3 linked regions of the Homo sapiens genome follow. The protein of the gene in region 1 interacts with the protein of each later gene in a pairwise test. Each region holds a gene or a part of one and is shown in the gene's direction. Other genes may lie near its edges.

Region 1 (7,293 bases):
GATGAGAAAGTGGACATTTAAGGTCCAAGTAGAAGCTTGCATCCTTGAGGCTCAGGGATGAGAGGGCACCGCAAGGCACCCAGCCTTACCCCACAAGCAGGAATCCTGCCAGCCGAGCGTGGGTCCCAGTCTAGTTTATGGAATCGAGTCTCCCAGACAAAAAAGGAGAGGCCCTGGCGGTCCTTGGCCTGGCCCATTTTATTCCCTGGACCCTTAACTGCCTCACCCTGAGCTGGGCACCAAGGTTAGAAGGCAAAAGTGGGGTAGGGGGATGTGGGAAGCAGCATTGTCCTCTGGGCATGTGGCTCAGAGGTATCACAGTGACAAAAGAGCCAGGGCTAGGGCTGGAGGGGCCAAGTGATCTTCCTTAGCCAATCCCAGTCCGTCTGTGTCAGCCCAGCTCTGCCTCGCAGCCCCCTCAGCATGGGTGCCCCCAGAAGTAAGCAGCTCTTGGACCCACGAGCAGGGCTGCGTCGGTTTGTGGTCTAGCTCCCAGGGCCAGGCCAGGCATGGCTCAGTGCAGTCCCTGGGCCAGTGAGAGGCCTCCCCCATGCCTCCCTGCCCTCTGCACTAAGCACTTTCCAGGCAGGCCTGGCCATAGGGCAAGAGCAGGCCTTACAGCAGTGCCACGGTGACCCAAGAGGCAGGGTTGGGGCCTGGACAGGGCTTCCTCTGCTGAGACTGAGACAAGCAGGGCTTGATGCTGGTGGTGGAGCCAGCATCTCACCTGCCAGGCTTCCTTTTGGGCAGGGAGGCTACCTGTGGAATGGCTGAGCCTGGTTCTGCAGGGGAGGAAGGCTGCCAGGAGCTGAGGGGCTGGCACCTGCATTGAGGGGAGTCTGGGTGCATCAGATTGGGGGGCACCAGAGGCGAGGCTGCCTGGCTCCCTTTCTCAGCAGCTTTGCTTGTGGCAGGGGTGAGAGTGGAGCTGAGTGGGGTCTGGGCTCTGCCCCTGCGCCTCCACTGCAGTGCCTGGGCTCCCCTTGCAGGGCAGACAGTGCCTGGCACTGAGGGGTGCCCCCAGACCCCGCTGGGACTGGATGTGCCGTGGGCAGTGCCTTCCTCCAGCCTCACAACCTTTCTGCTGGGGCTGAAGTTTCTGGGGTCACATGGTCAGAAGGGGCTGAGCTGGTCTTTCACTGCAGGCCCACTCTGAAAGAGAAATCCCATGAAGCCTGTCCTTGCAGAGCCCCTCTGTTTTTGGGGGAACAGGGAGCATTCACAGGGTCTTGGGAACAAAGGCCTGGGCCTCCCCGTTTGAATTTCAGCCCCAGTTCCAGGGCAAGTCCCAGCCACCCAAGCATACTTACCAGTACTGCCCACCACCACCCACTGCCCACCTCTAAGAAGCCCGGCTCTCCTACTCTGCTTCCAGGCTGGGGCCTCACAGGTGGGGCTGTTACCTTCCTCAGGGCTTAGGGAGGGAGGGAGGACATGGACAGGGCCTTCCACCCTGGCTCCTTCACAGGGATGGTAGCTGACCGGTGATGGGTTCATTTGTCACCTTGGACTGTGAGCCACTTCCACTTCTCGCCCCCCAGGCAGGAGCACCCTCACTCCAAGGGCTTGGCCTGGAAAGGCAGGCTCACCTGGGACTCAACGTTCCTTCCCCCGCCGCCACTGTGCCCCCCCGTCCCTCCACCCCAGAAGCCCTGACCTCATTTGGGCACCTTGCTGTCCTCTGGGCTTCTCCTCTGCCCAGGTCACCCTGTGGCAGGCCTGGGCCCTCAGGATGTTTCAAAGGCTCCACAGCTCCACCGCTCCACCTGGCTTCACTCCAGCACCCTGTCCCTGGAGCACCTCTGTCCTGTCTGGGCCAACCTGGTCTCCCTGCCCCATGCCCTCCCCTGGCTCTTAGCAACCTGCCCTTTTATTCATGCCATTTGGGGTCACAGATGCCTAGCTGGACACAGCTCCCAGAACTGGCTCCACCCTGGGGCCTTGCCCCTAGTACCCCCTGGCAGGAGCAACCCACCCCATGGTCGAGGTTCCCCTACCCCTGGATCCTGGACTGAAGCCATTTCCTACAGAGAAGCGTTCCCACCCCCTCTCAGGCACAAAAGCCGGTGTCCAGGGACTCAAGACCTGTACCTGGGGTTGCAGGGGCTCCTGCCCTGCTGTATCCCACCAGGAGGGGGCCCCACTGCCCTTCCGGCCCTTAAAACTGGGCTGGGAGAGAAGATGGGGAAGTGTGTGAGACAAAACAAAGCCGGCTTGTTTCCTCCCCTTGGCAGGCTAAGCTCTCCCGGCAGCCCGGGCTCTGGGGCGGAAGGAGAACAGTGTCATCTCTTCCTTTGTTGATAAATTGCCAAAGAGTGGGAGCAGGTGGGGTCAGGGGCCAGAGTGCAGGGGAGGGGGCAATGGTGGAGGTGGCGGGGGGAAGCAGAGGGAGGTGGGCTGAGGCCTCGGTGGGGCCAGTGCGACGCTGGCTTAAGGAGCTGGAGGGGTTCCTAATACACATTTAATTCAGTTTCTCTTCCCTAAGAGGCTGCCGGAGTTGGGGCCTCCTCCAGCAGAGACCCTCGGACCCCTGCAGGGCCTGGACTTGGGGTGAACAGGGCTTCAGTCAGCGCAAGTATTCCATTTGCATTTGGTAATTTTTCATGCCACCTATTTATGAATATACAAATCTTTATACCAAATCTATTTTTTAAAACATGGAAAAGTTGCCTTTATGGAAACTTGGCAGAGCCAGAGTGTACACATTCCTAAACCATTAAACAGATTTCTATAACAAAAAAAAAAAAAAAATTTTGTAGAGATGGGGTTTCACCATGTTGCCTAGGCTGGTCTCAAACTCTTGGACTCAAGTGATCCGCCTGCCTCGGTCTCCTAAAGTGGTGGGATTACAGGCATGAGCCACTATGCCTAGCCTGGTTTGAGTAATATCTTGATGGTTGATGAAATATTTGATAATTGGATGAGAAGAGAACTGTGTTGTCTCCAGTGATGCTGCAAATGGGTGAGGAGAAATGCTGCCATTTGTGAGGTTTGTGGGCGGCAAGGTTGAAGAAGAGAATAATGAAAAAGCTAGCGTCATCCTCAAGGCCTGTTGATAGTCTTGATTATTGTTTTCTGTGTTTTTACCTCATGGTGCTCAATATGTATTTGTTCAGTGAGCAAATAAATGTAAGGTCAGATTCTGCAAACAAAAGTCAAAGAAATCTTACTTCCTGGAAAAGTTAGCCCAATTAAGTGCAGCTTTCCAGTCACCCCTCCTGGCTCCATTTTATTTCAGCTGTAAGGGATCCGAGAGACTTTAGCCCAAGGTGTTTCTTCAAAGCAATAAGTGGAAATGTTTCCCCACATTAAGACTGCACAGACGAACTGTCATGACCAGGCTCTTGGTCCCCTGTGGACGCATCCCACTTGGTGTCCTGGTTACCTGGGCTATCTTGGGCTGACCTCATCATTCTAGTAGTGATGGCCTGGCAGAGACATTAAAAGGCTTCTTCATGGAGTCTGGCTGGTTTCACATCCTGGCTTTGCTGGGTTAGATTGGAGAAGTGACTTAACTTCTTAGTGACTCCATTTGCTCATTTGTAAAATGGGTATAGTAATAGCTCCCGTCTCATAGGATCATTGTGAAGATTAAACAGAACAATCCAGGTAACGCATGCAGGAGGGTATCTTGCACACAATATGCAGTAAATGTTAGCCATTATGATGGAGATTATAGTTGTCTTTGATTAATGCAAATTAACAAATTTACTTACTAAATTTAATTTGACATTCTTTGAAAATATGCTCTCTCTCTCTCTCTCTCTCTCTGTGTGTGTGTGTGTGTGTGTGTGTGTATTGAAAGACAGAGAGAGACTGGTGTTTGGTGGTGAAAGTTTTGGGCCCACGTAGGCCAGCATCCTTTTCAGTTGAAGTTGTGCTTGTGGGAGGTGAAATGACTTGCCCAAGGCAATACCACTAGGAATAGCCCAGGTAAGTTTAAATACTATGTTTTTTGACTCTCAACCCAGTGACTTTTCCACTATATCTCATTTCCAGGCATTGCTGGTTCGTTTTTTTCGAAAATCATTCCAAATTATATTCCAATTCGACTTTCTTCAAGTTCATCCCAGAAAAGCAAAGGCCGGGCACTTGAACAAGAACAGCTGTCAGCCTGGGGCGAGGGGGCAGTGTTGGTGGGGGCTGGAGCGGGGCCGGACTCTAATTGGTCCACGGCCTCGGCCCGACTATCAAATCAGCAGAGCCTGCGTCATCACGTCGTTGCCTGGGCTGCCGTCCGCGGAAATTTGAAATGGCTGACGGGTCGCTGACGGGCGGCGGTCTGGAGGCAGCGGCCATGGCGCCGGAGCGCATGGGCTGGGCGGTGGAGCAGGAGCTGGCGTCTCTGGAGAAAGGTGAGCTCTCCATGCCGGGGCCGAGGAGCCGCCTCTGAGCGGAGGCCTGGGGCGTCGGGACCCTAGGAGGGCGCCTGGGTCGCGGGCCTTCCGGACCCGTCTGTCCAGGGTGGCGGGAACGGCGGTGCGCGGCCGGGACCCAGTGACGGGACCTCAAAGTCGGGCGGTACCCAGGGGTGGGGGACTCCCTCTCTTCCCTATCCGCATCTCCCACTCTCCCTGCACTCTCTGGCCTCCGCCCGCCCCGAGGTTGGAGGGAGCTGGATTGGGCCAGGAATTCCCTATCTGGATGGGTTTTGCGGGAACTGTGCATTTACTGTTGCTCAAGGGGCCATTTTTTCATCTGCATCTCAAAGGAGATCACGAACCACACTTCCCTTTTCCGAAGAAGAGAAAAGCTTGAACCCTTGGCTTAGATGGCTGTCCTGTGCACGGAGGGTAGTGACGTGTCCAAAGTGAGGAGCGCCAACTTGGGCCGGAGTCCAGAAATAGAACCGGGGTCTTCTAGTTCTCTGCCCTTTCTTCCTCCTCATAGAGTTTCATTACTATTTTTTTTTTCTGATATTTTAAGCTGGTTCATGTTTTTACGTTAACACTTTCGGTTGTATTGTGTAGCAGAGAGTCCCAACAAAGTGAGAAAACATAAGTGTGACAATTCCACTATTAACCCACCTATCCAACTGGCAAAAGTCACTTGGCTTCAGTTTTCCCATCTGGAAGACTATGCCAATGGTTGTACTTGTGGTGAAGTTGAAGTGAAATAAAGTTTTTAAAGTGGCTGCAAAAATAAATACTGCATGGCATCGCTTATATTGGGAATCTAAAAAAGAGGAAGTTTCAGAAAGAGAGTAGAGTGGTAGTTGCCAGTGGGTTGGGGGAATGGGGAGATGCTGGGCAAAGGGTCCAAAGTTTCAGTTATGCAGTGTGAATAGTTCTGGGGATCTGATGTACATACAGCATGGTGACTATAGTTAATAATACTGTATTATTATTACAGTATTAATAGGCAATGACGTGATGGTGCAATGCGACACAAATTTTGTACTTGAAATTTGCTAACAGAGTAGATCATAAGTGTTCACACCACACACACACAAAAGGTAACTATGCGAGGTGATGGAAATATTAATTCACTTTACTGTGGTAATCATTTCATAATGTATAGGTATATCAAAACATCATGTTACACACTTTATTTTTTATTTTATTTTATTTTTTTTGAGGCAGAGTCTCACTCTGTTGCCCAGGCTGGAGTGCAGTGGCACACAATGTCAGCTCACTGCAACCTCTGCCTCCCGGGTTCAAATGATTCTCCTGCCTCAGCCTCCCAAGTAGCTGGGATTATAGGCGCCCGCCACCACACCCAGCTAATTTTTGTATTTTTAGTAGAGACGGGGTTTCACCCTGTTGGCCAGGCTGGTGTCGAGCTCCTAACCTCAGGTGATCCGCCCATCTCGGCCTCCCAAAGTGCTGAGATTACAGGTGTGAGCCACCGTGCCTGGCCATCAGGTTATACACTTTAAATGTATATAACTTCTATATGTTAATTATACCTCCATAAAGCTATAAAGAATGGTGCTGGAAAAAAAAAGAATGGTGCTGAAGTACTACTATTTCTTTAACAAACATATACATTATGTAATAGGCACTGTTGTAAATTATTAACAATTAATCTTCTTAATTGAAGTGGATGTACTATTATCTTCCCTTTATAGGTGAGGAAGCTGAGGCATTGTCACATAACCAGTAAGGTACTGATGCCTTCTAAGGTTCATGTGCATCAGTGTTTGTGAGCAGTAGACCCTTGAGTACACTTTGGTCATCTGTGGGTCAAGTACTTCTGGTGGCCTGAACAGGGACAAAGAAATGGAAGGAAGGGGGAAAGGGAAGGAGAAAATCAAGGGGGAGGGAGAAAAAAGGTATCTGCTAACAGCTCAGATACCTTCCCTGAAACCACTTCTGGAGACTACTCTACATTCTAAATGCTACCCTTTTTAGCATTGCTTATTTAGTAGTTGTTTCATTTATTAAAAACATTACATAGAATTAGATATGCCACTGGCTGAATCATACCTTATGAAACATTATATACAGCCCAAACCTAATGTGATTTGCATTTTCTGATCTTTTCCTTAGACACAGTCATTGAAATTAGTGAGGAGGAATCTAATAACCTTACTGAAGTAAACCTTATGGATTATTAAGACTCTCGTCCCTGTTTATTGAGGGGCGATTGACAGACTGATATTGTAGGAAATAAAGGGAGGGCTTAACCCATCTGAGAGGAAGTCAGCTCCCTTTCTTAAAGGAGCTTTATGGAATTGCTTTGGAAAATAAATAACTAAGATACTTGATTATTATCACTGGCTAACTGTAGTATAAATCACAGGCTGTATGCTTTGTAGGAGATCTTGAGTGATTTCCACTGAATTAAAAATCAACTGTCTTCCAGCTGGATGTGGTGGTGCATGTCTGTAGTCCTAGTTACTCAGGAGGCTGAGACAGGAGGGTAGCTTGAGTCCAGGAGTTTGAGGTTGCGGTGAGCTATGATCGCACCACTGCACTCCAGCCTAGGTGACAGAGTGAGACCGTTTCTAAAACAAAAACAAAAACAGCCTTCTACTTCTCCCCAAAACCTCACAGAACAACAACAAAAATCTAACTGTGAAAGATCTTAAGCGCTTATTGTTTTGAAGTAGAATTTGGATTTTGAAATATTTTTAAGTTTGGAAAACTAGTTTCTTCTCACAATGGTAGAGGTAAGTAGACTATTCATATTCAAATTCTTGTTTGTATTTTGTTTGGGATTTCTATGCAAGGATATGAAAATAGAAGCATTCAAATAAGGCACTGGAGCTTGCTTATTTTTGCTTTTTTTTTTTAGGTTTGTTCCAAGATGAAGATTCATGCAGTGATTGTAGCTACCGTGATAAACCAG
Region 2 (7,105 bases), about 22 Mb from region 1:
ATACTGCTGACATTTTTTACAAGGTAAATGTATTTGGGTATTACTTGAGTAATAAAGTAATTCTTTAAAAATAATAAGGCTTTACTCGGACCCAGTGAAGTTTTCCCTATGTGATATGCTTTGGTCTATTATCATTTTGTTAATTAATTAGATAGGACACAATCCATAACACAACTTCCTGATAGGCCAGGGGTTCCATAATCTCTGGTTCTCAACTCTAACTGCAGTTTAGAGTCGTGAGGGAGCTTTTACAATGTAGGATGCAGCTGGGGCATGGTGGCTCACTCCTGTAATCTCAGCACTTTGGGAGCCTGAGGCAAGAAGATCGCTTGAGGGTAGAAGTTTGAGACCAGACTGGACAACATAGTGAGACCCTAATCTCTACAAAAAAAATTAAAAATTCGCCAGGTGCACTAGGTCACCCCTGCTGTCCTGACTACTCAGGAGGCTAAGGTGGGAGGATCACTTGAGCCCAGCAGGTAGAGGCTGCAGTAAGCAGTGATCATGCCACTGCACCCCACCCTGGGCGACTGAGCGAGACTCTGTCTCAAAAAAAGAAAGAAAGAAAGAAAGAAAGTGTTTCCACACTTTTAAAGTACTTCAAGTCTTATTTGATCCTCATGACAAGCCAACAAGTTAATCCTTTTACAAAGGAAACTAGAGCCTGGGATGTGACAGCAGTTGCCGAAGGTGATGTGGTTAGCTCATGACAAAGCCTGACCTGCTGCTTATCCCTCCCATCTGTGGGCTGGAGGGGAGGCAACTTCACCAGCCACACAGTTGAGGGTTTCTTGTGCTTGCCTGAATCACGACCAGCGAGGAACTTCTGAGAACCACAGATCCTGGGCCTCCACCTGCAGAGATTCTAATGGGATGATGCTTGGGCATCCCACATTGTTTCTTGTGTGTGTGTGTGTGTGTGTGTGTGTGTTTGAGACAGGGTCTCACTCTGTCTACTCACTGCAAGCTCTGCCTCCTGGATTCATGCCATTCTCCTGCCTCAGCCTCCCGAGTAGCTGGGACTACAGGTGCCCATCACCACGCCCAGCTAATTTTTTTTGTATTTTTTTAGTAGAGACGGGGTTTCACCGTGTTAGCCAGGATGGTCGCGATCTCCTGACCTCGTGATCCGCCCGCCTCGGCCTCCCAAAGTGGAAAACACGTTCAATGAGAAGTGTTCTCCTGGAATGCTTTCCCTTCCTTGTCTTGAGGGTTACTTCTCAGAATGCATTTCATTCATTCATAATTGACCAGTAAAATTGTATACATTTATCATGTGCAACATGTTGTTCTGAAATATGCATACATTGTGGAATGGCTAAGTTGAGTTAATTAACATATTTATTGTCTCACATACTTATTTTTTTATGGTAAAAACACTTAAAAATCCCTCTTAGCAATTTTCAAGAATACAATAGATTGTTATTAACTATGGTTACTGTGTTACACGATAAGTCTCTTGAATTTATTCCTGCTACTTAACTGAAATTTTGTATCCTGTAATCAACATCTCTGCATTTCTGATTTTGGAATAGAAATCAAAGTGGGAGATAGAGATCAAGAAACAAACATTCACTTTATAGCCAAGTTTGCTCAAATACCCTTTTTGAGTTAAACAAGCAATAACTGAATTATAAAACATTCTAGGATTAGTTAACATTTTGAGGGCATAATATGTGAAAGCCACCGAGTATCTCATTCATCCTCACATAACTTCATGATATAGAGATTATAGAAGTTAAGTAACTTCTCCTGTGGTCAGACAGCCAACCGGTAGACAGCAGTCAGGATTCAAAGTCAGACTGCCTAACCCTCAGACCTCAGCCTTTAGCCTTTGCTGTATTACCTCTTAACCTCTGACATGGTTAGTTTTACATCCCTGCATACTGAAAGATGGACAATCACATAGCTCTTCTAGACTTTTCCATGTTCTTGCAGTTTGGGAATATGAATTAAAAACTTCACAACCATATATACCATATGATACACCAATTCTACATCTAGGAGTTTATCTTAAGGAAATACTTGGACAGATGTCCAAATGTCTAATTACAAGAATATATGTTACAGCATTGGAAGAAACCTAATCAACTGGAAATTTATAAGATAGATTTTGGTATATCCATTCAACGGAATGCTATGCACAGATAAAAATTGATTATGTTCATATACAAATATTAAATTAGCAAGGAAAACTTAAGTGAATAACTGGCTTTATTAAAGATCTATTGCCCATAATCCCAGTGCTTTGGGAGGCCAAGATGGGAGCTTTGCTTGAGTTTGAGATCAGTCTGGGCAATATAGAGAGACCCCATCCCTACAAAAAATTAAATAATTAGCATGGTGGTGAGCACCTGTAGTCCCAACTACACAGGAGGCTGAGGTGCGAGGATTGCTTGAGCCCAGGAGGCCAAGGCTGTGAGCTGTGAGCTATGATCTCACCACTGCACTCCAGCCTGGGTGACAAAAAGAGACACTATCTCAAAAAAAAAAGAAAAGAAAAAAAGAAAAAAAATCGTCCAAATACTAAAGTGTTTATGTAAAGCACACACATACACACAGAGTTTAATATGTATTCAGAGAAAAGAGTATGGAATGAAGTAGACCAAATATTAGTCATAATTTTTCTCTTAATAAAGGATTATGGGTGATTTTCATGTTATTATCTCAGCTGAGCTATCTTTTATAAAGAAATATTAAAATAGTGACAAATGTTGTTATCTCTTAAACGTTTTTATGTTTAATTATGTTTTAAAAACATGTAACGTAAAATTTACTATTTTAACCAGTTCTAAGTATACAATTTAGTAGTGTTAAGTATATTTACATTATTGTGTAAATGTTGTAACTTTTACAGAGGAGTAAAGACAGTTTTTCCTTTTAAAAATTCCATGCTCACTGTTTTGAAAATAATAATAACAATACACCTTACTTAGTGCTTCGAAAAGGCAATGTGACAGCCACAGGTGTTTGCCCAGCTGCAGGTGCCTCTGCAAAGCATGTCTGTCATTCCCTGAATAGCTAATATAAAGAAACAGTTCAGGTGGGCACTGGCCTTCTTGTAAAAGAAGAGTGAAATCTGTCTCCAGAAGAAACATGAACTGCAAACCTCCCTGATAGGGTGCCTTCTCTTTTCTAGATAATTGCTTATCAGCCCTATGGGAAGTCCGTGGATTGGTGGGCATTTGGAGTCCTGCTGTATGAAATGTTGGCTGGGCAGGTAATTGAATTTTAAGTGATCGATAAGAGAAGTCCTCCCTACCCCCATCCACATGGTTTCTTTAGGAGAATGCATGTTTGGTAACAGCTCATAAATTGGAACCTCTATGACTTTCCCGGCCTTGGGGTCATACAAGTCTGTGGTCATTTGAAAGCCTGGGTGTGTGGCTTCACTGTGGGCCCCAGGGAGGAGGGTCTGCCAGTTGAGGGGAGCTAGGGGGAGGGTTCAAGCAGGGATTCTTCTCCTCCCACCCTCCCCTGTCATACAGGCACCCTTTGAAGGGGAGGATGAAGATGAACTCTTCCAATCCATCATGGAACACAACGTAGCCTATCCCAAGTCTATGTCCAAGGAAGCTGTGGCCATCTGCAAAGGGGTAAGTGCATCTCTTAAAGCTGTGACCAGGACCACCACATAAAGGCATGTGGGCTGTACCTTGCCCAAGAACACCCCACCAGGGGGGAACACAGCCTGAACTCCACCCTTCACTCCATTTGCCAATATGAGAACCCTGATGTGGAGCTGCTACCTCCCGGAGGAGAGAGAGCTTTTTTTCTGATTTGCACAGAAGTGCTGTAGAGAGCTGCCTGCAGCTGCGTCTTGCTGCTGGCTGGGCTGCAGTCTCTGAACCAGCACAGGGGAATGCTTATTGAATGAATGAGGTAGAAAGCACAGAGATTTTGTCAAAGAGCTGGAAGTCATGGGAAAGGGCACAAGAGGTCTTTTGCACAACTCAGGCTATCTTGCCCTGCTCTGCTGTATGTGTTTAGTTAATACTAAGAGCGTGCAACTTTTGTTCTAAAAAATACCACGCCGTGTTGAGGTTAAGGAATTCTCTAGATAAGCAGACTGAAATTCAATGTACTCAAAATCCCACTGTCTCCTCTCCCCAGACACACACACAAATGGCTAAAAGGGCATGCACGCTTGGACATCTACGGTTTATGCACAGGGCACCTGTGAAGAAAGCAGGATGTGTGTTTATGGGGAAGGATTGTTTGTTTTGCATCTTGTGTTGGACCAGGGCATACTCACAGTGACTTCTGTGAGATCCTAAAGATCAGCGACCCTCACCTTTGGAGCCATCAGAATAACCCGAAGTGCCTTACCAGAATGCACATGCTTCTGCCTTACCCCAGAGATTAAGTCTGGGTATGAGTATTTTGGAAAAGTCTCCATTTGGCTTGCAGACCACTGCCTTTAAAAATACTGTCCAAATGAAGTGATTTTTCAACTCTGATGGAAGCCTGAAAGCAATAGAATTAGACGCCCAGAAAATATGTTCTACACATAATATACTAATAAAGGATTTGCTCTCCCTCCACCCAGTGGTACAGGTTAGAACATGGCCGTGCCTTAATCAGTGGGTTCCCACCTGTGTGTCTGAATAAACCAGGGCTGCCAGTCCTAGATCTGTGGGATGCTTGCAGACTTTTCATGCCCTACTTTGTTCTTCCTGACCCCAGCCAGATGCTGGATGCACTGTCTTGGGTGAAGGAAAGCTGGGAAACTCAGGCAGGCCAATCTGAGGCTTGGCCCAGTTTGGAATAGCTGGGCCAGCCTCTCAGCCTAAAAGCGCCTTGTCACACTGCCTAAATTCCCACTCTCAATGAATCACCTAAGGTTTGCACCTCAGCTGCATAGGCTAAGATGCATGTATCCCTGGGGAAACCACCTGTGAATTAGTCTCAATCCCGAACATCTAAAGTGAATTGCTTGAAAATATTTTCTTTGAGGGTGTGAGGCAGGGAGAAAGAAAGTGAAGAATAGAGAGGGGAGTCCCAGAGGTGCATTAGGAACCCAAGCAAAGCCCATAAAGAAAAAAAAGGCACACACGAAGGCCTCCACAGGCCCCCGTAGACAAGTTATTGAAGGGTGGGGGCGGGTAGAGAGAAGGTGGTACCTGGAGCTTTTAGTTTGTTTAATAATTACCAGCATATAAGGATCCAGAGATTTCTCAAAAACATTCAGCTTTCAGGTTTCTCTTGAAAAATCAGATCTTGCCACATTGGCCTGTCATTCTTACAAAGCACCAGTCAGCTGGATTGGAAACCATGGCCCTCTGTAGTTGGAGCTTGCCCTCTGTAATTCTCAGACGTTCTCATTTGGCCAATTCTCTCCAAGTTCAAATCCTGGTTCAGGCATTAATTGCCGCAGGACCTTGGGGAAGTTGTTTGACGGCATCTGCAGATTGGGGATAATAATAGCACTCCACATTGGGTTCTTTGATGACTAAACAGCTGAATACTGTAAATCACTTAGAATAGAGGCTGGCACTCTGCTCCAAGCCCCTTGGAAGTTATTATTACTATTACTAGTGCTGACGCTATTGTGTTATCTGCCAGGTTCCTCTTGGCATTTGAGTTTGCATCCCCTGGAATTGCAACTTTTAAAGTAGGGGATTTTGGAGATCAAGGGACCCTTTGCAAATCTTGACCCTTCTACTTTCTAGGCACAAGGTGTTTTTGTTTTGTTTTGTTTTGTTTTGTTTTGTTTTGTTTTGTTTTATCAATGTCTCGCTCTGTCGCCCAGGCTAGAGTGCCGTGGAGTGATCATGGCTCACTGCAGCCTTGATCTCCCAGGCTCAAGGGATCCTCCTGCCTCTGCCTCCCAAAGTGCTGGGATTACAGGCATGGGCCACTGCACCCAGCCTAGGTGCAAGATCTTAAGCCACTTCCTTTGCATCTCTGGGCTTCTGTTTATTTTAAAAAATGGAATAGTAGTACTCATTGAAAAGAGTTTTTGAGAGCATTAAATGAGATAACATAAGAGAAAGCTCCTTGCATGATGTGGGCACATAGTAGGTGTTTAATACATCCACAGGGTCCTCCCCTTCACACGCCCGCCCTGCCTGGACAGCTGGGGGTTCTAAATGGGTCATGGAGGAAAGAGCATTTTCCAGGTCAGCTGCCTTCAGCTCCTGCTCCAATTAGCAGTTTCCCTGGTAGAGCCGTTTTCTATTAATTCAGGACCCATAACCTTCATGATTAACTGGGGTGACTCTCTTACTATTGAGTTTGGGGACCATTATTAATTGAGTGGGCTGAGTCCAATGGGGCTCTTCCTTCAAGGAGGGTACTCCAAAAACGAGTGATGCTCAAGCAAACAGCCAAATGCTTCCTCTGGAACAGCGAGCCCCAGGGGATACGTCTGGGAGGTGATCAGAGATTGGAACAGTGATTAAATCCAGCTGTCTACATGGCTTCGGGCACATTAGAGCAGAGTGCGGGAACTGGGCAGAGACTCCGAATTAATGCTGGATGTTTTTGCAGTACCTTTTCTTTGCTTGGCATCCTCCTGCTTAGACAGAAATTCAGTTGAGCTTTTGAAAACAGTCACCTGTTTAATTGAAGCAGTGTCCTTTATATGTCCATTCCCTTAAAGGCCCGATTTTCTACTAAAAAAAAAAAATTAGTAAAACCTTACTCAGATGGCTATTCCCACTTTGAACAAACTTGAAGCAAACAGAAGCCCAAATAGACAGGACCTTAGGGTGAAAACCAGCAGACACTGAACAGCTGAGACTGAACATAAAGCTATAAGAGTCCTGAGCCAGGCAGAGCTGTTCAAAGCCTTGCCCTGCTCCTTAGCTGTTTGACCTTAGGCAGATGACTTTACTTCTCTGCACCCACATCCTTTACCTGGAAAATGGGGGATAATAGTTGCTGAGGCCTTAGAGTATTGTTGCAAAGTTTAAAGAGTAATGGGTAATGGCCGGGAAGCCTTTAGCACGGAGCCTGAACGCATATGATGTTGTCATACTCAGTACACGGAAGCCGTTATTGATGTTATTATCAGTGTGAACCAAAACCTCACTGCCCTTTCTTTCCTCCCATCCTAATCTTACACAAATGTCAAGCCTTGGCTCAATTTCCTCACCCTCCA
Region 3 (7,721 bases), on another chromosome or scaffold:
AAAGAGCCTATTCTGTTAGCTTTTCTCTAAACTCCTCATTTGTATTTCTATCCAGTTGTTTCTCTGAGCCTTTGTACATAATTAGACCACAAAAGGTGGTACTTGGCTACCTCATCTCGTAAATACTCTCTCTGCTGCCTTACTTAGTGAATGGGGAGATCCCAGTGTTACTCGACGTTGGTGCATTTGAATCTGCCAACATTTCCTTTCTTTGAGCTCATCATCAGTCCTTGACCAGGTAACTTCCCACTCAGATATTTTGGTGAACTGTTAGTGTAGAAGGAGAACAAACTGGCAAGTGATTCTGAGTGAGCTTATCTTCACATAGGAAGGGTGTTTGAAATTTCTCATTTTCAGAATTTCAGAAAGACAGCCAATTCCTTTCTGCTCAGAATGGACTGAGGCTGCTCCCGATTAGGCTGTCTGAGTTCTCTCATTTTTACTCATCACAGTCACATCTGTTTGGGTTTCTGTCTCTCTCCTGGAGATGCCTCTTGAGAGCAGGTCCCCTCAGCTTCCTTACAGCTCCTCTGAGGCCTGCCAAAAGAGATTGGCAGAGAACGATCAGCATTCTATGCCCAGATAACTCACATAACTCTCTCTGAAAAGAATGCTAAAACCTAGTTCTCAAGTGAACCCACGAGGAGTGGAATCAAAGGGACTTTTGCATTTTTTCCTTGGAATCCAATTTAGAATTTATGTTCTCATGGGGTGGGAAGAGAACAGAGAGATGGGAAGTATGAAGAGGGGAAGATAAAGAAGTAGGAACAGGAACATATGGGAAAAATAATCATAGGCTCCCAGAGCCAAAAGGACTTTAAGGAACATGTCATCTGGAGGTTTCCAAACGTTTTGTTTTTAGTACCAGAATCTTTTCATTTTTATTTTTTACGTAAGAAATCATACAATGAGCTCCACTATATAAAACAGATGAAAAGAGAAAGAGAAATAAACAGTTGAATGAAAACAGTTAAAATAGATGAAATCTACTGTTGAAACATTGGCGAGGGAACTTTTATTACTTTTCATTACTTTTAGATTGCTGAAGAATACAAAGTGAAAACTGCCAATCTTGTCTAAGTATTACTTTAAAGATGGGAAAATTGAGGCCTGTAATATGGAGAAATGACATACTCAAGGTCACACAGCCAATTAGTGGCAGAGATAGGATTAAAACATATGTTTCCAGCCTGCCAGGCTAGAACTCTTTGGGAGTTGAGTTAGAAAAAAAAGCTAAGAATGCTTTCTTTCTGAACATGGTCAAAAAGAGAGGTTGGTGGACAATGCAATGGGAGAGCGGACACGTGGGAGAAACAACGGAGAATAGACCCTACCTTAGAATAGAGCATAGAAGAGTTTGAACCACCAGGGATAAGCAGAGATAACTGAAATTTACAAATATGGAGGAGATCCAGGAAGTTCCATAGCAAGGCCACAATGTGAACTGCTAGGAACAAATCAAAACTGGAGAAAAAGGGATTTGGAAATAGGTGTCAAAAGAGAATTCTTTATTACTTCCCCTACACAAATGTCGTACTATTGGCCCAGGATGGCAGTGGGACAGCAAAGACAAGCAAAATATGCTTCTCTAGGATTGGCTGCAATTCTTTCATTATACCTTCTCAAGATGGATGTGACTTTGGCATAGTTTCCTGTTGGAGATTTGAAAGTAATATTCACATTCGTCTCTGAAATTTTAAGCACCTGGGAAATAGACATGAGAGTTAGGAAAACGCGAACATATCTGCTTTGTGTGTGTGTGTGTGCGCGCGCGTGTGTGCGTGTGTGGAGTTTCGCTCTTATCGCCCAGGCTGGAGTGTGGTGGCCTGATCTTGGCTCACTGCAACCTCCGCCTCCCGGGTTCAAGCGATTCTCATGCCTCAGGCTCCCAAGAAGCTGGGACTACAGGCAGGCGCCACCATGCCTGGCTAATTTTGTATTTTTAGTAGAGACAGGGTTTCACCATGTTGGCCAGGCTGGTCTCAAACTCCTGACCTCAGGTGATCTGCTTGCCTCAGCCTCCCAAAATTCTGGGATAACAGGCGTGAGGCACTACGCCTGGCCAATATCTGCATTATTAATGGTTAAGTTCATTGAGCAATATGATTTGGACCCAATTTCAAAATGGTTTTCTTTCACTTTCTGCCCCAGATTGAATTTACCCTCTGGTCACAGGCCTTTGTGAGTTCTCTTTGTGGAAGAGAGAGGAGAATGAATGAGGTCCGTAGACAGACAGATCACAGAGAGATGCCCCCTTCTCAAGTCTCATTAATAATGTGCCATGCATTTTCCTGTTCATGAAAACAAAAGATTCAAGGGGGTCAGGATATAAAAAGACAGAAATATCTTTTGTGGGTTGGCAGGAACATGTGACAGAGGGAGAGTCTCGTTCCCCCTCCCCCATACTCTTCATTTTTCAATATTATACAATTTAATCAGGGAGAGAAGGATTAGAGCAAGAAGGACATCTACAAACACGTGTAGAATCACCTGGTTATCAGCCTTGGCCCAGTGGTTCCATGAGCTTATGTGGATGGTAGACAGGAGTTAGAAACAAAAGGATGTATTTACAGTTTGTGTTTGCAAATTTGTAATAAATGCCCCCGCCATTCTTATTATATATTCCTGAAGTCTTCTCTGAGTCTGTTTACCTCTAATATGTACCACAGAGTGTCCACACCAATAATTCTACAGGCGTCCTGAAAATACCTTATGAATGGTGTTTGCAGAAGCAAACAGTGAGAGCTATCTGAGAGGAGAAGTGGAGGAAAAACGGTGTGGGAAAGCCCTTATGATTTTCTCAATACCATCTCTTCTTCTAAGGTCTATCCCCTTCCTGAATCAGAACTTCATCCTTCTTTAGCTTTTGCATGCCTGCTCTGGGTCAGGATCCCAAGAGAGAAATGAGAGTAGGAACAAAAGGCCCTTGGGGTTGGTGCTTGGCAGAAGGTAAAAACATGCAGAGAATAAGCAGAGACCTTGTACCTGTTCATCACCCACCCCAAATATTTGGGCTTGATCAAAGCTTCTCCTGACCCCTCTTTATGTAAGATATTTCCCTTCATGGTATCTGGAATTTAAACAACAATCACAAACATTTTGAACTAGGAAATAGCCTCCTACTCTTCAGAATCAATATCAATCAGTCATTCCTCAGGGATTTATTTTTCCCTATGAATCAAATTTTAAAGAAGTGGATACTTGAATAGACTTGAGGTGTTAAAACTCTCGTCTACCTTGTCCTCCCTTTTCATTTGGGAAAGCCAAAAGCACAAAAGAGTAGGTAGAAAATGTCAGACCCTTTGGCATCATTCTCCTGTAACTATCAGTCTCAACCCACTGCAACCTTTACCCCAGTCTGCCTTGCAGACACACAGTGGTGCTTCTGATGGAGCAAGAGACATTTCAAGATTGCAGAGAAGTGGAAGGAGGGGTAGCAACAGCTTCCCCTGTGAAGCAATGGAATCTACAGAAGGGTCCGGTGATTCAGCTCTTATGGGCTAAGAAGCCTGAAAGCATTTCAGTGTTGCTGAGTCCGAGCTTGTTTGTTGGGTAGTCAGGCAAGGAAAAAAGGGCTAGAGTCTGAAGATAAGCTGAGCATCTGGTTTTGCATCTACATTAGTTCTGAAAAGAGGTGATGGGGGTGCCATGTAGGAGTCCAGTAAAGACGGTGTAGGGCTGCCAGGTAGTAGAGCTGCTCTATTTTGCTTCCTAGTTGGCCTCAGAAATCAAGTAAAATAGTCAAATAATTGTGTCTGTTTGAAGGTAGGGATGTAGACAGGCCATTTCTCTTTGCTGCATTTCTGGCCTCAAAACCTCTTCTTTCTTTTCCTCCAGAATAAAATATAACACAGGGAGAGGACAGAACTTGTTAATAGACTGAGGCCAGCAAAAAGCCAGACTGGTTCCTGAATTGGAGGGAAGGAGGCTGCCTGACTTTGGAGGAGCAGAAAAAAATAAGTTAGGAGATTAGAGATGGGCCACAGCTTAAATAGAGAGGTTCGACTCTGCATTTCCCAAATACGTAATGCTTACGGTACACGACCCAAGCTCTCTGCTTGAATCCCAAATCTGAGCGGACAGATGAGGGGGCGCAGAGGAAAAACAGGTTTTGGACCCTACAAATTGGCTTGAAATGAAAAGTCAGCAAAAACCACTGGGTGGCAGCGTGGTGTGCGGGCGCAGCTCTGCAGTGTCTGCTTCTGCTGCTACCGCTGGGGCTGAACCCGTCTGGGGACTCTGGCCTCCTCCCCTGAATGGCTACAAGTGTCGCCAAGCAAAATACCTCTGCGCGGGTGGGTGAGGGTTCTCCGGGTTGTTGGTGCGTCCAAGCCTGAGGCAGGGATCTGGCGAACTTCTGAGGGGCTCCAGCCCGAGCACAATCTGGTCAGCTCAAACACTGAGGAAACACCCCCACCACTCCATCCCCCAATGCCGAGCAAACCCCCGCTCCGTCAGCCCAACTACCTCATCTCAGTTCCTCCTCCATCACTGTTTCCTCCCGAAGCTCCTTTCGGGAAAAGGAGGGGAGAAGGATTTGGACGACTGGGGCAGTGCGGAAGCCCCTACAGGTGTTAGCCGGAACGGGCGGCCGGGGACTTGGGGGGGTGGGGGTGGGGGTGGGGGTGGGAGGGGCGGCCTGCGGCTCCGAGCCTACGGGCTCAGCCCCGGGAGGGAGGGGCCGTCGCGGGAGGGGGCTGCAAGGAGGCTGTCGCGCTGTTCCGGAGGGTGCCTGCGGCGGCTGAATTCCTGTGCTGCGACTGTGCCGCGCCCAGAGCAGCAGCAACAGCGAAGATGCGAGGCCATTACCTGTTTGATCCCTGTCGGAAACCTGGCACGGGCCAACTTTTCCCGATTATCACGCCAAGAAGTTGCAAGGACTAGTCGAAGACTCGGAGGGGCCAGGGCGAGGGCGCGCTCCCCCGCGCGCTGCCTCGTCCCTCCTCCGTCCGGCCGCCCGAGCTCCCGGCCTCTCTCCCGCCCGCGCTCACTCCCTCCGCCCGCCTCCCTCCTCTGGCCCCCATCAGAAGGGCAACAGGGCGAGGGGGTCCGGCGAAATTCGGACCGGAGCAGCTGGACATGCACGGTGTCCGCCGGGCGCAGGGGCCGACCACACGCAGTCGCGCAGTTCAGCATCCGCGTGCCAGTCTCGCCCGCGATCCCGGGCCCGGGGCTGTGGCGTCGACTCCGACCCAGGCAGCCAGCAGCCCGCGCGGGAGCCGGACCGCCGCCGGAGGAGCTCGGACGGCATGCTGAGCCCCCTCCTTGGCTGAAGCCCGAGTGCGGAGAAGCCCGGGCAAACGCAGGCTAAGGAGACCAAAGCGGCGAAGTCGCGAGACAGCGGACAAGCAGCGGAGGAGAAGGAGGAGGAGGCGAACCCAGAGAGGGGCAGCAAAAGAAGCGGTGGTGGTGGGCGTCGTGGCCATGGCGGCGGCTATCGCCAGCTCGCTCATCCGTCAGAAGAGGCAAGCCCGCGAGCGCGAGAAATCCAACGCCTGCAAGTGTGTCAGCAGCCCCAGCAAAGGCAAGACCAGCTGCGACAAAAACAAGTTAAATGTCTTTTCCCGGGTCAAACTCTTCGGCTCCAAGAAGAGGCGCAGAAGAAGACCAGGTCGGAAAGGGCTTTTGCTTTCTTTTCCCCATACTTTACGAGTGAGGTGGGGGCGGTGGGGAGCAGGTATGTAGCATAGGTGAGTTTGTTGGTGGCCCATCTTGTGCAGAAGAGGCCACCTAGCCTGTGTGCGTGCGTGGGAAGGCGCTGGCTTTCTTGCCTCCGTAACAGTAACACGCTTGCTGCATTGCAACTGCCCTGGGACAGGCGCAGAGCCTGGGGGCATACTCTGCCCTGGGTGGCTTGCCCTCAGCTTCGGACATGTCACATATGTGCATGCCCGGTGGGCTCTGGGCAGGCGTGACCCAGACATGGCTGTGATATGTATGGCGTGGAAATTGCAGGCGCAGAGCTGGGCAGACACCATCCTCCCGTCCCCAGGAGAGCCTGGGGAATCCCTCTCTTGCTTTTATCTCTGCCTCAGACCCTTCCCCTCCAGCTTCCACCTCCAAGGGATGTGGGCTTCTGCTGTCTAGGCATTGCGTTTCTTTGATGACTTTTAAGCTTTTTGGGACAGACTTGACTTGTGGTGCAGCTTCGAAATGTTTGCTGGGGCGGGGGGAGGGGGGATTTCTAGAACCTTGTTGCAAAGAGCTGAGAGATTTGGTTAGACTTAGTGTAATCGGTTACATGCTACTAAAATGCGGTGTTGAAGAGGGGATTTAAGCTCATACCCAGACTGTGGTGCTTTTGAACATTTTCAGTGGTAGGAGTAGCGCGATATTCCAGCGACTGGAAATTCAGCTCTAGGTGTCAGGTTGCGTCAAGGCAGACCTTCAGGCGAGCATGCAGTTTATTTGCCATTCTTAACCAAATGAATCTTTTACACTCTTTTCTGCCTTTTACTAGATAAATATTACAAAAAAAATAAGAGTCACCGATCTGTTATTTCTCCATTTATGTGTGCTACACCCTGGGATGGAAAAGCAGACATAACGTTTTCTGTTTGCACAAAGTTTTTAATGCATTAACTGTAAATTAGGCTTGTTTCAAAAAGGCTTAAGTGGTTGCAAAGCATGCTTATGTGGCTCGAATAATCACATAAATATTATTTCAGCGCAGGAGTCTATATTCAGTAAAAGAAAATTTTGGATAACATGGCTGTTATTGGTAAATGAGACACTTGATTGATCTATGGTTATTCATAATTGAAAATCATTTTAATTAAGAACTCATATTTTTGATAATCATACTTCTGATATGAAATTTGAAAAATTAGTATGCACTGATTTTTTCCTTCCTACCAACAAAAACCCTGCTCTTTTCACACACATTTTCACTAATGATAATTAATATGACAAGATTTGTTAATGGTGGTTGTATCTCCCTCCTCCCTTTTTTGGTATAAAAGGCTCAATTTTCCAAATACAGTTTCCTTAATGGGGTTCCACGTTATTTATGCATTTTCTACCTTCTTAGAATAAAGGAGATTATTTATTCAAATTGTGGTCATTCTGAAGGAAATCTTTGCTAGTGGGTTTTTGGTCCTTGGTCGGTTGGCAGACAACTCTGAATTATCTTTCTATTTCTCCTTTTCCTTTCACATGAAAAGTAGCACAATTTCAAAAGGCAGAATAGCCATTTGCCAACCCATTACAAATACTCAGTGAGATAGAGTTCCACTCTGTAAACCAAAGGACAGGTTATCAGAAACTATAGACACTTTCAGAAGCTTTACCAATGTTTCCAGATAGAAATAAAATGTTTCTTTAGTTTGAAAATTTATTCTGAAACTCAGAGTTTGTTTTCTTTCTTCCAGACACCTTAAAAGTGTAGTTTGACTTTTTCCATTAAGATTTGTAAATGAAATTAGAAATTGAAATTCCTAGTCTTTTCAACTACATAGGCACAATTTATCAATTGATCCAAATCATTGTTCTCTTTGCAGAGCCTCAGCTTAAGGGTATAGTTACCAAGCTATACAGCCGACAAGGCTACCACTTGCAGCTGCAGGCGGATGGAACCATTGATGGCACCAAAGATGAGGACAGCACTTACAGTAAGTGACTGCAAAATAAATAGTATATGCCAGCATGTTGTTAACATTCTGTTTTTATTTATTTTAAAAATAAATACGCTTTCCTAAATCCTGAATTAAATGCAAAATATA

Evidence for each region.
Region 2: the proteins of SHCBP1 (region 1) and PRKCB interact in binary tests that used the Homo sapiens proteins (3 or more experiments, as listed by UniProt).
Region 3: the proteins of SHCBP1 (region 1) and FGF13 interact in a two-hybrid assay, tested with the Homo sapiens proteins (one study listed by BioGRID).

What each region holds. Positions count from the first base shown.
Region 1 is NC_000016.10:46,618,319-46,625,611, reverse strand, and holds the start of SHCBP1 (SHC SH2 domain-binding protein 1), read left to right. Parts: upstream 1-4,232; 5' UTR 4,233-4,252; coding exon 4,253-4,355; intron 4,356-7,239; coding exon 7,240-7,293. UniProt on the Homo sapiens protein: May play a role in signaling pathways governing cellular proliferation, cell growth and differentiation. May be a component of a novel signaling pathway downstream of Shc. Acts as a positive regulator of FGF signaling in neural progenitor cells.
Region 2 is NC_000016.10:24,181,972-24,189,076, forward strand, and holds part of PRKCB (protein kinase C beta type), read left to right. Parts: intron 1-3,139; coding exon 3,140-3,220; intron 3,221-3,488; coding exon 3,489-3,596; intron 3,597-7,105. UniProt on the Homo sapiens protein: Calcium-activated, phospholipid- and diacylglycerol (DAG)-dependent serine/threonine-protein kinase involved in various cellular processes such as regulation of the B-cell receptor (BCR) signalosome, oxidative stress-induced apoptosis, androgen receptor-dependent transcription regulation, insulin signaling and endothelial cells proliferation.
Region 3 is NC_000023.11:138,708,707-138,716,427, reverse strand, and holds the start of FGF13 (fibroblast growth factor 13), read left to right. Parts: upstream 1-4,710; 5' UTR 4,711-5,424; coding exon 5,425-5,611; intron 5,612-7,499; coding exon 7,500-7,610; intron 7,611-7,721. UniProt on the Homo sapiens protein: Microtubule-binding protein which directly binds tubulin and is involved in both polymerization and stabilization of microtubules.